Linked DNA regions of Homo sapiens. The protein of the gene in region 2 interacts with the protein of the main gene of each other region in a biochemical or structural test. Each region holds a gene or a part of one and is shown on either strand. Other genes may lie near its edges. The genes, in order: RAB2A and GDI2.

The links.
Region 1: the proteins of GDI2 (region 2) and RAB2A form a complex in vitro, tested with the Homo sapiens proteins (one study listed by BioGRID).

Annotation. Positions count from the first base shown.
Region 1 is NC_000008.11:60,617,374-60,624,987, reverse strand, and holds the end of RAB2A (ras-related protein Rab-2A), read right to left. Parts: intron 6,409-7,614; coding exon 6,340-6,408; intron 4,315-6,339; coding exon 4,219-4,314; 3' UTR 1,344-4,218; downstream 1-1,343.
Region 2 is NC_000010.11:5,809,821-5,818,661, forward strand, and holds the start of GDI2 (rab GDP dissociation inhibitor beta), read right to left. Parts: upstream 3,615-8,841; 5' UTR 3,439-3,614; coding exon 3,394-3,438; intron 3,378-3,393; exon of another isoform or gene 2,495-3,377; intron 2,137-2,494; exon of another isoform or gene 1-2,136. UniProt on the Homo sapiens protein: GDP-dissociation inhibitor preventing the GDP to GTP exchange of most Rab proteins. By keeping these small GTPases in their inactive GDP-bound form regulates intracellular membrane trafficking.

The DNA.
Region 1 (7,614 bases), on a different chromosome or scaffold from region 2:
TATATATGTTGGTTTTCTTCCCTATCCCCTTCAGTGTGGTGTTACTCATTTGTAATAATAAGTTCATTAATAGTTTGTATTTCACTGAGTTCCCACACTTTCATGGTTGACTTTAATTATGTTTGGGTTATGTGAAACATAACCATAGTTGAGTCAGAGCTATACAAAAAATGTATACTGAAAGCAGCAACATTCTCCTCTTGTCCCAACTATCCTATTCCCAGTCTTCTTACTTTCCATCCTGTACCCACCCAGTGTTTGTAACTAGTTTCTGGTGTATTCTGGAGATCTTCTTCCTCACCCTTCTTTATAGCTGTGTAGGACTCCACTGTGTGGATGGACACAGTTTAGTGAATCACTATAGTTTATTGAATCACTATAAGTGGAAATGACATATAAGTCATTTCCAATAATTTCTAATTACAACCAATGCTGCAGAAAGTAACCTTGTGCATATGGAGCTTTTGCTTTATTGGAGAATTATCATTTGGGCGGATTCCTACAAGTGGGATTTCTGGGCCAACAGCAAGTGTACATGTAATTTTATTAGGTATTGCCAAGTTCCCCTCCAGAAAGGTAGTTCCAGTTTGCACTTCTACCAACACCACACAAAGGTGCCTCACCAATACAATGTGGCGTTGTATTTTACATTTCTTCCAGTCTCATAGGTGAGAAATGGCATCTGAGCTTTAATTTGCATTTGTTTGAATTTTTAAAAATAAATTTTATTGTGTTTAAAAGTATACCTGTTATGGGATACACATAAATAGAAGGTTACTAGAGTGAAGCAAATTAATGTATCCATCACTCACATTTGAATTAAAAATGCATTTTAGGGACACTTTGTATGTTTTTTGTAAATTGCTCATTTTCCTCCATTTTTCTATCAGGAGTTTGGTGCTTTGTCCTTCAATGTTTAAGAATTGGCCTCATAATTTTGTAAAACTAATTAATACTAATATATAGACTGGCACTTAGTTTTTGGCCAGGCATGGTGGCTCACACCTGTAACCCCAGCACTTTGGGAGGCTGAGGTGGGCAGATGACCTAAGGTCAGGAGTCTGAGACCAGCCTGGCCAACATGGCAAAACCCCGTCTCTACTAAAAATACAAAGTAGCCGGGCGTGGTGGCAGGGACCTCTAATCCCAGCTACTTGGGAGGCTGAGGCATGAGAATCACTTGAACCTGGGGAGGTGGAGGTCACAGTGAGCCAAGACGGCGCCACTGCACTCCAGCCTGGGGGATTAGAGTGAGACCTGTCTCCCAAAATAAACAAAATAAATAAAATGAAGTTCTCTGTCGTGACTTCAACCAAAAAATAATAATACCTAGTACATCCGAATGCAGTATGAGATGATCTACTGTGGCGTTAGGCTTTATTTTAATGTAAACATAAAGCACACATCTAAACTCTGAGAAATACAGGTAGATATGCTGGTTTACCTATTTGTATAGTCAATTCCTGTTTATTATGAAACAGCGTTATCTCTTTGTGTATCTTTTAGCTCATATAGTCAAACCCCATGCTGCCAACCTCAGGACTAAATAAACTGAGATGGGGCTTTACTATCTATGACAGAATAAATGTTTAAGGTGTTGCAAAGCCAGACATGAATCAGTTTTTCTGAGTGATTGGAAACATTTTGGTACGATTTATATCCTAACTCTTTTTGACCATTAGCAGATAAATAGGGACTATTTTCCTGCTAACAGGCTATTTTAAAATATCATTAAAAACAAATTGTATGCAGTTGTATATCCTGTTTCAGTTGTATATCTAATTATATGCCACATTCTTTCAAAAAATTGGCTTTTCATTCAGTTGTCTTAAATTTGCAAGACGAATGGTAACAATGTCTTTATGAAGATCACAATTTTGAATGTTACATGTTGAGTGAGACATTGAAAGCTGTGTTTATTTTTTTCAGTGACTGATTTTCTATGTCCATAGATGCTATAAAAACTGATCGAAGATCAACTAAAAATTCAATTACAATATTACAAATTCAACTGCAGGTACCAATATTACATTATTTGACAGGGATAATAAAATGAGCAAAGACTGGAAATCACAGACAATAACATTGCTTTCTCAATTAACAGAAAGGATTCATAACATATTCCTTAACGGTAGATGTGATTTGTAGAGAATGTGGAAAAGAACTATTGAGAAGTCCACCTGCTGCCCCAGACTGAGGCACATTAGGGTGGTTGTGGGAGGAGTTATATTTGAGGGTTCCATTTTTCCTTAGGGTATTAAAATGCATGTCCTGGTTTGTTGTTTATTTGCCATTAAGTTCTCTTCTTCAAATAAAAGAATTAGGGGAGAAAGTATGGAAAAGAAACGCACTAAACTTCTGGAAAAATTAACAGAAGCTTAAAAATAACAATTTCCAAAGAATCATTCTCTTCTTGGTATAGAGCAGTACCTGTCCTAGTTGCCTTAACTTTTTGTACTCACTGGTAAAGACAGTGATTAGTAAGACCAGTGAATTTGATACAGCCACTTGAAAGAAAAAAAGGCTGTACTACAAATACCCATGAAAACAGATTTTCTCTCACCCTTCCCTCTGCCCTCAAGGAGACAGTTAAAACAAAACTATGACAGCATTTGGTGATTTCCCACAAGAGTACTGTCAAACCTTTGAGAGAGTACTGCTGAATCTTCAGGGAAGACCTGTAGAAAGTTGAAGGCCATGAGCGAAATGAAAGTAGTTAGTTTCAGAGTTAGAACTTCTTTATGCTTTCTTTCAGGCATAAGTGCTTTTGTGCTAGTTCAGGAGAAAACACTTGCTTACACTGCTTACACCATCAACAAAAATAATTTCAGTATGGTGAGATTTGTCGCATTTTAGCAAAATTTTTAAAAAGGGTTGAGTGTTAACCATTCTGACCCTTTTAAAAAACATGCTTAAACCCATGTAAAAGCTGTAAGTGGACTAAAAATACATTAAAAAAGAGGTGGTCATAATAAAAAAAAAGAACACTTTTATACATAGGATTTTATTTTGCACTGCTGTAACAATTTCATTATAGACCAAGGGAGAAAAAGAAAAAAAGGATAAAACCACCACACTGAGTAAATTACTAAAGCTTTTCTACTTTGTAACAGGATTTTCCATCTGATAGATTTATTGTCATATCCCCTTCAAAACAGACAAGATGCTCACCATATTTTAAAGATTATAGAGGTTGCCACTGAAAGAAAAATTTTACACAGTCACTGTACATCAAGGTTGAAAAACTGTCCTGCATGAAAAATATACTTAGAAATCATGTGAATAAAAGAAAAAAGAAAACATTATTGTGTTTAAGGAAAGATTAAAGTCCTCATAATGTGCCATCTAAATGTGGATACTCATTCTTCTTGGAGTCGCTAAGATGTAGAAATTTCTTGCTTCTGCCCTTTTCACTCATTATACTGTGTTTTTTCCCAACAGTATTCATTAAGGCAAACAAATCCCTTTCTGAAGAGGTCTTAAGGAAATTGTGGACAAAGCAAACTTTTGGCATTAAAACAGGTTAACATATACAAAGCCTTTGTAATATACATTAAGCATATTTTTCTTGGACTAGTGACAAGAAAAGATGAACATGCTTGTTAACAATGTCAAAAAGTTTAAAATTCAGTGTCCAAGCAATTCCTAACAATGCTTCTGTAGCTTTAAGCTCTAAACAGTATAGAATTTATGCAAATGCATTAAAGAATTCAAGCTTGGCAAATTACACCCAAGCAGGTTATTAAACTATATATACAGAAAGTAAATGATAAATACAGAATTAAAAGAGTCCTTCTGTTTCCTTATAGCCGTGAAAATTGACAAAGTTTCTGAGGACAGTTCTATAATATTAAACATTAGGTAACCACAGATGTTGGGAAACCTAACTACACAAACCGATTTAAAATACTCAAGATGACTTTGTAGTGTTTAATACAATTCAGTTCGTAGTTAAGGGCACAAGACAACATTTAACAAAAATAATCACATCAATTGACCTAGAAATCAAATGCAAATAGATATGAATACAATCTCCAAAATCTGTCTTTTAAGTGAACATTAACCATTTATTCAAAGTTATACAAGAATTTGACGGATTAAAGTCTTCTGTGACATAAAGCCATTTCAAATAGTTTCATGTCTCAGCTGAGCAGGAGGAGAGGGGGTGAAAGAATAAGTGAGTAGGCCCCGTTGGGCAGCTAGACAGTAAAAACAGACTCAACAGCAGCCGCCCCCAGCCTGCTGTCCTCCCTGATTGCCTGCATGTGTTGCATTGGTAGCAGCATGCTGAGGGCCAATTTTAATGCCATTTGCCTGAAATAAAAGAGAACAGAACAATAAATATGACCAGACAATATAGTTTAACTAATTCTTAAAAAACTCATTTAATTCTTTATGATACAATTTTATCAAACAACTGAGAAAAATACAGCAAGTAGATTTTAGCAACAATTAAAACAATATCTCCTAAGGGATGTTCCTTCCTTTTAAAAACACTGTGGAAATGTTTCTGAAAATAATTCTTTATCATACCAGGTACGGGGTAAACAGTTATTGGATAATGCTGCTTTTCAGGAAATTCTCATAATGCAGAAATCATTTAAAATAATTATTGCAAGTAATCTTTAAAGCATAAAAATACCCAAAGCCCATGCTGCTTTAATACAACGTAAAATCTTTTCTCTAGACAGTGTTTCTGTTCCATGTTGAATCAGCTGTACAGGCTAAGGGCATATGAGTGTTCTGTGTCATCAATAATTTCTATGATCCCCAAAGACATGGCAGCTTGCCAAGAACCCACACACAGAGTAGTTCTTTCATTCATCAAACTCACACTTATGTCTTAACCCTCACTCCCTCAAGTGGATTTTACCTAAAAATACAACACTTTGAGAAAAGTAATACAGTAGCTTCAGAAATTAAGCTCTTAAGGAAACTTTACGTCACAGTAAATCTCAGATTTATAGTGCTTGGCAGTTGTTCTGCAACAGTAGTAGCCTTGGGGTTTCTGGCACTAGCTCAGTATTGACAGCAGCTGATGTGGTTTCTTTTCGCTCTTTTGACTCCTCTTTAATAAAAAGCATGCCCTATGGCTCATTGATTTTGCCCCCTCTGGGCTGGTAGCAACTTCTTGAGGAGTCAAGGAGTCAGACTTGGCATTAGGCCAAATAAATAGCACGGCCTGTTGGCTCCCAACAGCACATTACAATCAAAGCTGCATAAGGCACAGTAAAGCAGTCAGCTACTATATGAAACCAGACAGAAACAATGAATGTGCCCTTTTAGATAGAGGCCCAATTACTGTTCAATTTATATGGCATTAGTCTCTGAATGGTGTCACCTTTAAACTAACTCAAGAAGTACCGTCATATAAGCCTAGAAGATAGGATTTAGAAACTATATTACTCCAAATTAAACAATGAAAAAATCATGTACTTTTTGGAAACCTTAGGTAAACTGCTGTTTGTCTGAGCAGAGACTACTGAAGTAATAGAGAGCCTCATTTATGTATAGGATGAGAGAGACATACATAATGGCTTCCTAACACAATGCTTTTCTAACTGCAACTGGGGAGAAACCAGGGCTTTTCTTTCAGAAGCCAGAAATCTTAATACAGAATGGCAAAAATATTTATGTAAGAATAAGTAGGCTACATCCACATAAACATTTTGAAATAAATACAGATAAATGCAGAGTGGGGATGTGGGTCAAGTGATGATCTTTGGTGAACACTCTGAATTAGATGCTTCAAAGCTTTACATTTTATCCTAATCATGTTGACCAAAACAGGATCAAAATAACATTACAAAAAACCCTATGCCAAATGCCAATTTTATATATATATATATGAATTTAGTCTCCTGAAAACATGCTATGCTATATTGGGAGTAATTTCCAAATTTGGTATTTCCCTCTTTCCTGCCAGATAACAGAGAGAGCATCTTGCATTAGTACATAGTACATGCATTTATATACCAGAACATTATTCCCAAAGCAGATGACACCATATGGTCATGTGGATAAAAGTGGATTTTCTTTTCTCTTTGGGGGATTTATATTATTTTGCATTGCTTGCAATGAATGGATAGGGCCACTTACTTTAATCCATTTCCATAGACAAAGTGTTGCTCTACTAGAACATAAATATTTAACTACTATACCACATATACCAATTTTTCAGTTGGATGACTGTAAACTAATGGTGTTAACTGATTATCATGATTGATTTTAGGAATTAAAAAAATTATAAAATAATGAATTATAAAATAAAAAATATAAAATAGTAATCAAAAGTGAACTCTAAATTAATATTGACCAACAATATTTATATGTATATACCTCATTATTAATGTCAAAGACTCCTTCTTGAATTTTTTCATAAATTTCTTTTGCTGTATTAATAAATGCCTGAAATATAGAGAAATTGGTTCATATTATATAAAACCAAAGCAGTAAAATAACATTATATATGCTCTATAGAATATCATAACATTCAACATATGAAAGTCAATCGACGTAATACATATTAATAAAGAACAAAGATATTAATAACATATTAATAAAGAACAATCGATGTAATACATTATATTAATAAACAAGCCCTCATGATCATCAATAGACATAGAAAAAGCATTTGACAAAATCCAACATTTCATGATAAAAACACTCAAGTCGAAATAGAAGGGAACTCCTCAACCTGATCTAAAGAATGGCATCTAAGAAAAACTACATCTAACATCATATTCGAAGATGAAGGCTGAAAGCCTTTCCCCTAAGATTAAGAACAAAGGATGTACGCACATGCTAATTAGCATTACAAACAGCATTATTCACAACAGCCAACAAGTGCAAACTACAGAAATGTTCAGTCAATAAAAAACAAAATTTGAGATATTCAATTAGTAGAATATTATTTGGCCATAAAAAGGAATGAAGTACTGATTCATGCTACAATGTGGATGAACCTTGAAAACACTGTGCTAAATGAAAGAAGGCAGACACAAAACGCCACAATACTACAACTCCATTTGTACGAAATGTCTAGAATAGGCAAATCCATGGAGACAGAAAGTAGATTACTGGTTGCCAGAAGCTAGATGGAAGAGAAAAAGGGGAGAGAATGCTAATGAGTATGAGGTTTCTTTTTGGGGTAACTAAAATGTTCTGGAATTAGATAGTGGTGATGGTTGTGTAACTTTGTGAATAGACTAAAAACCACTGAATTGTTTATTTATTTATTTTTGAGACAGGGGCTCACCCTGTCGCCTAGGATGGAGTGCAGCGGCGCAATCTCGGTTCACTGCAACCTCTGCCTCCCAGTTCAAGTGATCCTCTCACTTCAGCCTCCTGAGTAGCTGGGACTACAGGTGTGTGCTGCCACACCCAGCTAACGAATTGTATAGTTTAAAAGCATCAATTTTATGGTATGTGAATTATATCTCAAAAGAAAACATCATGACCATGAGAGGAAAAAAGAATATTGGAATATGAGAACAGCACACAGAGAAAAACACATTTCAATTATGTAAACTGCATAATCCTCCATGTAAAAACTAGCTTACTTCTGGATAATACAGTTCCACTCAGGGCCTTTTTTGCCATGATAATGTATTA
Region 2 (8,841 bases):
GTGGTCTTTAAAAACCAATGTCACACTATTGTCATCTCTACATGCTAAAATATGTCTAATTTCACTTATATTTTCTTTTGGCCAGGATGCTTAACGCTGGTTTAAACTGCCTACAACACAGCTCCCAAGTGTAACAGCATTTGCAAATATTGATCCTATGCTCACTACTGTAGTGAATAGAAAGTCCTTTGTCTACAGAACTCTAACACAGCTATAAGCAAGAACTCTCAAAGAGCAAATCAAAGATTAAGCAAATCCAAGAGGCAATCTGAATTTTAGTTCAGAATTTTAAAATCAAGTATAAAACCTTCTCTGAATCTGAAATCACAAAATTCTGATAAAGAGAAATGAGGAAAAGTATCTGGGATGTAAAGCAAGTTTTTAAACATATGATGCTGAGAATCATCTGGTATACATCACTAAAGTATATATTTCTATTCATAAATTCTTACTGTGTAGAACAAAAAATGGGAAGAAAAAAACCTCTGGGAAGCACAAACAGCTGTGGAACTAGTTACTCTTATTGTTTTAATCTACTATGTCTAACAAGACTCGTGAATTTATTTCCAAGTCCATAGTGAACTATGTGCAAATTATGTGGTGAGAGGCTGCCTACACATGCTGAAAGCAGAGAAAAGTAAATGTTGCCAGCCTAACAGTAAAGTAAGATAGAGGGAAAAAATATGAAGAGTAAACTGAAGAGCTCAAAAAGCATAGCAGCCTGAGAGTAAAGGGGGCAAAAGTTCCTACAAAGCTGGCGGGGTCTTCATGGCTTCACCATGTTACAGCATAACACAATAGTTAATCTTCACTATGTGAAAACTTGGTTATCAAGTAAATTATGTTTCTTAGTTTGTTAAAGAAGTTGTGACAGCATTTAGAAAGGCATTATCCAAAAGCTGTGCTCTTTAGAGATAACCTTTAGTTCCTCAGAAAATTCAATTGTGTGGAATATTCCATTTCTTTTACACACAGAATGAAGATTTTACTCCTTTATACCAAATCGTTTTGTATCTTCTTGATTAAGATAACTATCAATATTTGTGATTATGAGCTTAGACTTAACAACTCATACAAACAATGGCAGCACTAAGCAACACAGCAACTCCAGCACTTCCTTACACTTCTTTAAAAGTAACAAGTTCCTAACACTGAAAGTACTTGCCTTTTTTTAGGTTCTTAAGTCTCAGGCACTAAAGTAAATTTTAAGAAAATTAATTAACTCCAGACATTCAAAAGTTAATTCTGAGTGCTAACTTTGGTTTTCTCTTCTTCTAATTTTTAATCATCTAATTCCTGGTAACACTAAAAATAAGGATATATGATTTCTCATTATCAAAATCATCCTGTCATCACTACTCCTATCAATGATGGTAATAATGTGATTGTCCTGAATTGATATAATTATCAAAGAACATCTCAGAAAACTTAGGAAGGCTCACAGAGATTAAAGTTATCACAGCTACAAAATGACAGCAGAAACAGGTCTGATTTCTAGTTAAGTATGCATCTACCATTCATCAAAGAGTTCACAATCCGAATGAAAATTTAAACAAAGCTCATTATCTTAACTTGTTATATAAAAACACTTTCACCATCTTTGATACAAAGTGATGTGAACGAGGCTTGTGGAAGCCTGCATGATGGTGGATTTGCACTCACTCGTGCATGCTTAACTGACCTCAATTGTGAGCAAATCTGAAAGACCAGCAACAACCATAGAAAAACGGTGGAACTAACCGGCTCTTAAAACACGCTGGCAGCAACACTACCCATTCCAACAGGCAAAATCCACCACAAACTACTAAGCTCAGCTTGGAATCCCAATTAGGCACTTAAAAAAAAAAAAAAAAAAGCACAAAACCTGCAGTGGGTAGGGCCTATTCATTTAGGCATCCAACAGTCTTCCAGCTTTTCAAAGACAGACACAGGATTATTCCTGGATTGGTCAAACATAACGAAGTATTCAGAATGAATATTCTCTAATAATTGCATATAACTATAAACAGAAAAATGACAGACCAGAAAAACACGATTCTAATTCTTCACAAACCTTTCCTAAAAAATTAGCCAAATAAAAGTTCGAAGGTTTTCTCTTGCCTAGAGACATCTAAAAGTGTTATTTTGGGATGTTACCTGTAAAAAAAAAAAAAAAAATTGGTTTGACCCTGAGAGATTATAATAAATTTCAAAAAATTTGAAGTGGAAGTCTACATTAAATGACTCAGGAATTTGAAGTCAGAGTACATAGGATACACAAGATTTACATCAGTATTCATCTTAATTATGATCAAGCAGCCCAAAGTTAGAATTTCAAATTTCCCCAAAAATTGATAGTTAAAATGGTTTTCTCCAAAGTGAATTCTTTTGCAAGATGAACATTTAAAAAAAAAAAAAAAAGAACAGAAAAAGTACAAACTACAGAACCTGCCTGCGTTATCTACAGATTACCTAAAGTTCCCTTAGAAACAGATAACCAGGAAAATCAATATACCATGATATTAGGTACACCTTGCATTCATATATTACAATGCATTCTTCATGTTATTATCTTCCAACTCCCTGAAGAAAGCTTCGGAGTACAGAGAACTTGGCTTTTAGCAATCCATCACCAACCCAATTCTTAGGGGAAAACAGTCCAGAAGAGACAAAGGAGGCAGAGAACCCACCAAACAAAAGGAAAAGGCGGCGAAGGTCAGGTGCGAAAGCATTTGACGGACAAGTTTTGAAAAAACTCAATTCCAATTCTACAGATGCTCAGTAAGTGAGAAGGGAGGGTGGCTAAAAGGATTCAATAATACTTCTCATTAGCAGGGGGGAGAAAGGATTAAAAGACTAATTTCCACGTTTTCGCCAAAAATATAAGTTAATCAAGCCCTAGCAGTTCCGAAGCAGTGATTATCCAAGACTTGTCAGGAAACCCCGTACTCGGCTTTGGCAGCCAGACTGACCCGGGGCAGCGGCCGAGGCGGAATAGGAAATGCAACCGCGAGGCCTGCACCGTCCCCTCCGCCTCGGGTGCTGGTTTCCAACCGGGCGAGGTCACCGGCCCAAACCGGGGAGCGGGACCCTTGGCCCGGGCGGCCTTCTCCCCTCCCCTCCGCTTCCGCTGGGGGCAAGCGCAGAGGCCGGGCTCGGCCGTCACCCCGCCCCGAGCCTCACGGCCCGCATCTCCATTTCCCCGCCTGCCCCTCACACTGGGAGCCGCCCGCTCGCCCCGGGACGCGGGGCGCCCCTGAACCCGCCCGCGCCCCTAGCCACGACTCCCGTCCCGAAAACTACGGCTGACGGCAGAACGAGACCCCCGAGGAGCTGCGACCCGCGGGCCGTGCAGGAGCCGGGGGTGCGCCCGCCCCGGCTGCTCAGCCCCGGCCCCTCAGCCCTGGCGCCCACCGTCAGGCCGGTGCCCAGCACGATCACGTCGTACTCCTCATTCATGGCGGGGCAGGCGCGGACGCAGGACCCGAGCAAGGAAAAGGCGCAGGGGCTCCGTGACCACCCTACGAGGCTGGGAGGCGCTCTTGGGCGCGAAGGAAAGGGGAAGAGAAAGAGAGGAAAATGGAGCTGGCGACAAGGCGAGACCGACCGCCACCTCAGACGGGAAGAGAAGAACTGGGCGGGGAGAGGAGGGGAGGGAGCGAGGAGGGGAGGGCTGTGACTGAGCCTCCGCAGCCGGGGCGGGGCCTGCAGGCGCCGGGAGGGCCGCCAATCAGGCGCTCCCGGCACTCTAATTGGTTACGTCCCCGTCGCTCGCACAACTTTTTTTCCTTCCCCGCCTCTCGCGAGAGGAAAAGGGCGGGGCGTCGCCATTTTGGCTTCCGGTTCCCCTTGCGGCCTCTGCCACGGTGGTTCGGGAGGCGGCGCGCGGGCCGGGGTGGAGGTGCACGGAGCCGCGGGCGGGGACTGCTGGCCACCACCGTTCTGACTCCCGCCGTCGGGGCGGGAGCTCGCTCGGTCCAAGGTCCCAGAGCCGGATCGCCGCCCTTGGACTTTGAGCGGGCGCGTGCGGCGGCCACGTGGGCGAGGAGCGCGGGCCGGGCTGCCTCTCGGGGGTGGCGGCCTTGGTTCCTCCCGCGGGGCTGGGCTTGCCGGGGCCCGGAGCCCGCCGGGAAGAGTTCGGAAATCACACGTGTCCTTTTTCCCGCTCTGTGCCCTCCTTGTTTAGTGCGTTGCCGGTGGGCGCTTTAGGAAATTGGTAGGAGGAAAAGCGGCTTCTTTTGAAAAGGTAACCCTTAACAGAGATGAAAGTGAAAGCCAGGTTTCATTGGGAAGCCGATCTGCACCTACCGAGGGCTGTAACTTAAAGCCGCTGTAAACGTGGTAGCTGATCCTTGTATGCAAAGGTTTAGGCCCTAAGCTTAGAAACTGTTCCTTGCTTGCCTTCTACCCCGCTCCTCTTTTTCTAGAATTCTCTTAGGAATCTCTGGCTTCATTGAGGACACAGGTGTAAGCAGAAGCTGTGTTCTCAGCTCCAAGAGGCCGACCCCACGAAAGCCTAAGCAGGTGAATTTCGTAAAGACGTTGACAGTTGGAAAACCTGTGCTTTCAGCACGTGATAAATCTGCAGAGTCAGCAGACAATGAAGATTTGGCATTCAAGAACTCCTCAAATACTTCTCGATAGTAGCTATTCAGAGCCTGCCTTGATAGACCGAACTTGCTCATATTTAAATCATTAAGATAGAGGAAAGAATGTAACAACTTTTTAAAATGTTTCTTACCCCATAAATACTTGAAGAAGATATGTTATATTGGACCATGGATCTTTCTGGGGGGGAGGGGAGAAGAAAGCAAAAGTAAAGTTTAAATTTACATTCAACCTTAATTTGATTGTATATATTTGTGACCAAATGAATTAGTGCACAGTTGACCATACAACTGATTATGCAACAGTGAGTGTAACTGACTTTTCTTTTGGCTAAGCTAATGATGACTAAAGAAGGTCCTTCTGTTGCTCTGTCTTCAAGTCATCAGGGGGTCATACTACCTATATTTTTGAACCAATATGAAATAACCCTTTTTCTTTATTTTTCTGAGACAATCTCACCCTGTCGTCCAGGCTGGAGTGCAGCGGTGTAATCATGCCTCACTGCAGCCTTGATCTCCTGGGCTCAAGCCATCCTCCCACCTCAGTCTCCCCAGTAGCAGGGACAAGAGGTACAGGCCACCACACCTGACTATTGGCCCTTTTTTTTTTATTAGCAATAACAATAAAGAGCTTTTTTCACAATTGCCATCAGCCTCTGGCTCTTGAAGAGAAATTTAAGCATGTCAACTGAATTATGTTAACCATGTTTTAGGTGAAGACTATTTTATCGATACTCAAGAGTTGTGAGAAACTTGAAGACACTGAGATAAGGGAATTGAATTTAAGGCTAATAAGGATCCCTTCCTTACTTAACACTGAAGTTCATTTTAGTTCACAGTACAGGCCCTATGGCCCAACAGAAGGACAATAACAATCAAACCTGGACTAAGCCTTAACGGACTGAGTGCATCTAAAATGTTGTACCTGAGCCAGGCACAGTGCTTCACACCTGTAATCCTAACACTTTGGGAGGCTGAGATGGGAGGATCACTTGGGGCCAGGAGTGGGAGATGGGAGAATCACTTGGGACCAGCCTGTGCTGTAGAGCCTAGGTAACAGAGACACTGTCCCTATAAAAAAAATTAGCTGGAGGCCGGGCACGGTGATTGATGCCTGTAATCCCAGCACTTTGGGAGGCTGAGGTAGGCGGATCACAAGGTCAGGAGTTTGGAGTTTGAGACCAGCCTGGCCAATATGGTGAAACCCCATCTCTACTAAAAATACAAAAATTAGCCGGGCATGGTGGCACGTGCCTGTAGTCCCAGCTACCCGGGAAGCTGAGGCAGAGCAATCGCTTGAACCCGGGAGACGGAGGCTGAAGTGAGCCGAGATCGCGCCACTCCACTCCCGCCTGGGCAACAGAGTGAGACTCCGTCTCAAAAAAAAAAAAAAAAAAACTGGGCAGGCTGGGTGCAGTGGCTCACGCTTGTAATCCCAGCACTTTGGGAGGCCAAGGCGGGTGAATCACGAGGTCAGGAGTTCAAGACCAACCCGTCCCAAGATGGTGAAACCCCGTCTCTACGAAAACTACAAAAATTAGTTGGGCGTGGTGTCAGGCGTCTGTAATCCCAGCTACTCAGGAGTCTGAGGCAGAGAATTGCTTGAACCCAGGAGGCAGAGGTTGCAGTGAGCCAAGATCGTGCCACTGCACTCCAGCTTGGGTGACAAAGCGAGACTCAGTCTCAAAAAAAAAATCAGCTGGGCATGGTGGCATGAGCCTGCAGTCCTGGCTACTCAGGAGGCTGAGCTGGGAGGATCACTTGAGCCCAGGAAGGTCAAGCCATGATGATGCCACTGCACTCTAGCCTGGGCAACAGAGCAAAACCCTGTCTCAAAAAAAGAAAATTCTGTGCTTTTCTTGGATCTTCCACCCCACCCATTCCAGTTGCAAGGGAACTTGTAGATGACAAATACTGCTTAAGGTGAAGAGGCTTGAAAGCCACTAATTGGTTGAGTTGATCTCATGCCACAGATGGTAGTTCCTGCTACAGTGAAACCTTAGGTTTAGGGGAAGTAGGTTGGTTGGTGAAGATGAGTGGTAAACATCAATCTTTATTTTTAATTTTATTTTTTGGTGCCAAAACCCAAGATCAAACCAGGACACCATCAATCTTTAAAATATTTCAAATCTTGAAATCAGCCAGGTGTGGTGGCACATGCCTGTAGTCCCAGCTACTCGGGAGACAGGCAGGAGAATCAGTGGAACCCGAGAGGCTGAGGTTGCAGTCAGCCAAGATCGCGCCACTACACTCCAGCCTGAGTGACAGAGCCAGACTCCGTCTCAAAAAAAAAATAAAATAAAATATTTCAAACCTTTATGCAAAGCAGGAATCCATGGAGTCTTATTTATACTTGGGTACATGGGAATAATTGTTTGCTGATCTGTTTTTACTAAGCATCCATCTGCCCTTTGAAAAGGAGAGATTTAATCTAAGGAAAGAAAATGAGAGCGAACCTCAGCCCAGACCATCTTTTTCTCTCCTGCATCACTGTGGCAGTTTCTCAACAGGCTTTTTTCCCTCTCTTTTTCCTCTTCTCCTATCTGTTCTGTCCATTATCTTCTAAAAACACGCATCAGATCATGTTCAGGCTTCTGTATATCTTTTGTACTTAGAATACATTGTAGATCCTAGCCAGGCATGGTGGCTAACGCCTGTAATCCCAGTGCTTTGGGAGGCTGAGGCAGATCACCTGAGGTCAGGAGTTCGAGACCAGCCTGACCAACATGGTGAAACCCCGTCTCTACTAAAAATACAAAAATTAGCCTGGTGTGGTGGTGCACATCTGTAATTCCAGCTACTCAGGAGGCTGAGGCAGGAGAATTGCTGGAACCTGGGAGGCAGAGGTTGCAGTGAGCCAAGATGGCGCCACTGCACTCCAGCCCGGGAGACAGAGCAAGACTCCATCTCAAAAAAAAAAAAAAAAAAAAAAGGGATACATTGTAAATCCTTAAATATGACCTAATACCTTAATCTAGCCTCTGTATGTCTCTCCAACTCTATTTTTTAGTGCTCCTTGGCTCCTTGATCATTAAACCCCAAACATGCATGTGTTTCGGTTCCTAGAATCTGGTCAAGCTTTCAACCACCCGAGGGCCTTTGTACTCTTGGTTCCATGGCTACCACCCCTCACTTCCCCCTGCACTTCTTCATACAGCTAACTTTTTCCACTTCCTTAGGTCTCAGCTTTCCCCTCAACCATCATTCTCTATCAGTACCCTGCTTGTTTCTCACTGCTCTTATTAGAGGGGGTAATTATTTTCTTCACTTGTTCTTTGCTTTTCAAATTGGATGTAAACTCCATAGGGGCAGGGATATGAAGCCTGGACAGCCAGTAAAGGGCTGAGCAACTAGTAGAGGATGAGTAAATATTTGACAAATGAATAGGGGACTTGGAAGTTGAGCCCTAGATCAACAAGGACTGAATATGATGATATTGGTACTAGTTTCCTTTTTTCTTTTTTAAGACAGGGTCTCACTCTGTTGCCCAGGCCAGAGTGCAGTGGCACAACCATAGCTCTGTGCAGCCTCAGCCTCCCGGGCTGAAGTGATCCTCCCTCCGCAGCCTCCTGAGTAGCTAGGAGTACAGGCATGTGCCCACCATGCTCAGCTAATTTTTGTATTTTTGGTAGAGATGGAGTGTCACCTTGTTGCCCAGACTAGTCTTGAATTCCTGGGCTCAAGCAGTCTGCCCACCACAACCTCCGTAGGTGCTGTGGTTACTGGTGTGAGCCACCACGCCAGGCCCCAGTTCCTCTTGATACTTTGGAGAAATACAACTTTTCTTCTAGGAAGAGATATTAAAACTAATATTTTAAAGAGTCTTAGAGATAGGTATCTATAAAACATAAACCTGTGTAAAACCTGGATAGCTAATGCTGCAGAGGGAACATAGTGGGATCTCTAGAAAGGAATTTTAATATAGTTCCAAAAATATATATTTCCTAGCTTATGATCATTCACCCAGAACCATCCCCTAAAAACTGTTTGTCTGCTCCCAGTCTTTATTTTATTTATTTATTTATTTATTTTTGAGACAGAGTTTTTCTCTTGTCGCCCAGGATGGAGTGCAATGGCAGGATCTTGGCTCACTGCAACCTCCGCTTCCCGGGTTCAAGTGATTCTTCTGCCTCAGCCTCCCGAGTAGCTGGGATTACAGGCGCCAGCTACCATGGCCAGCTAATTTTTATATTTTTAGTAGAGACAGGATTTCACCATGTTGTCCAGGCTGGTCTTGAACTCCTGGCCTCAAGTG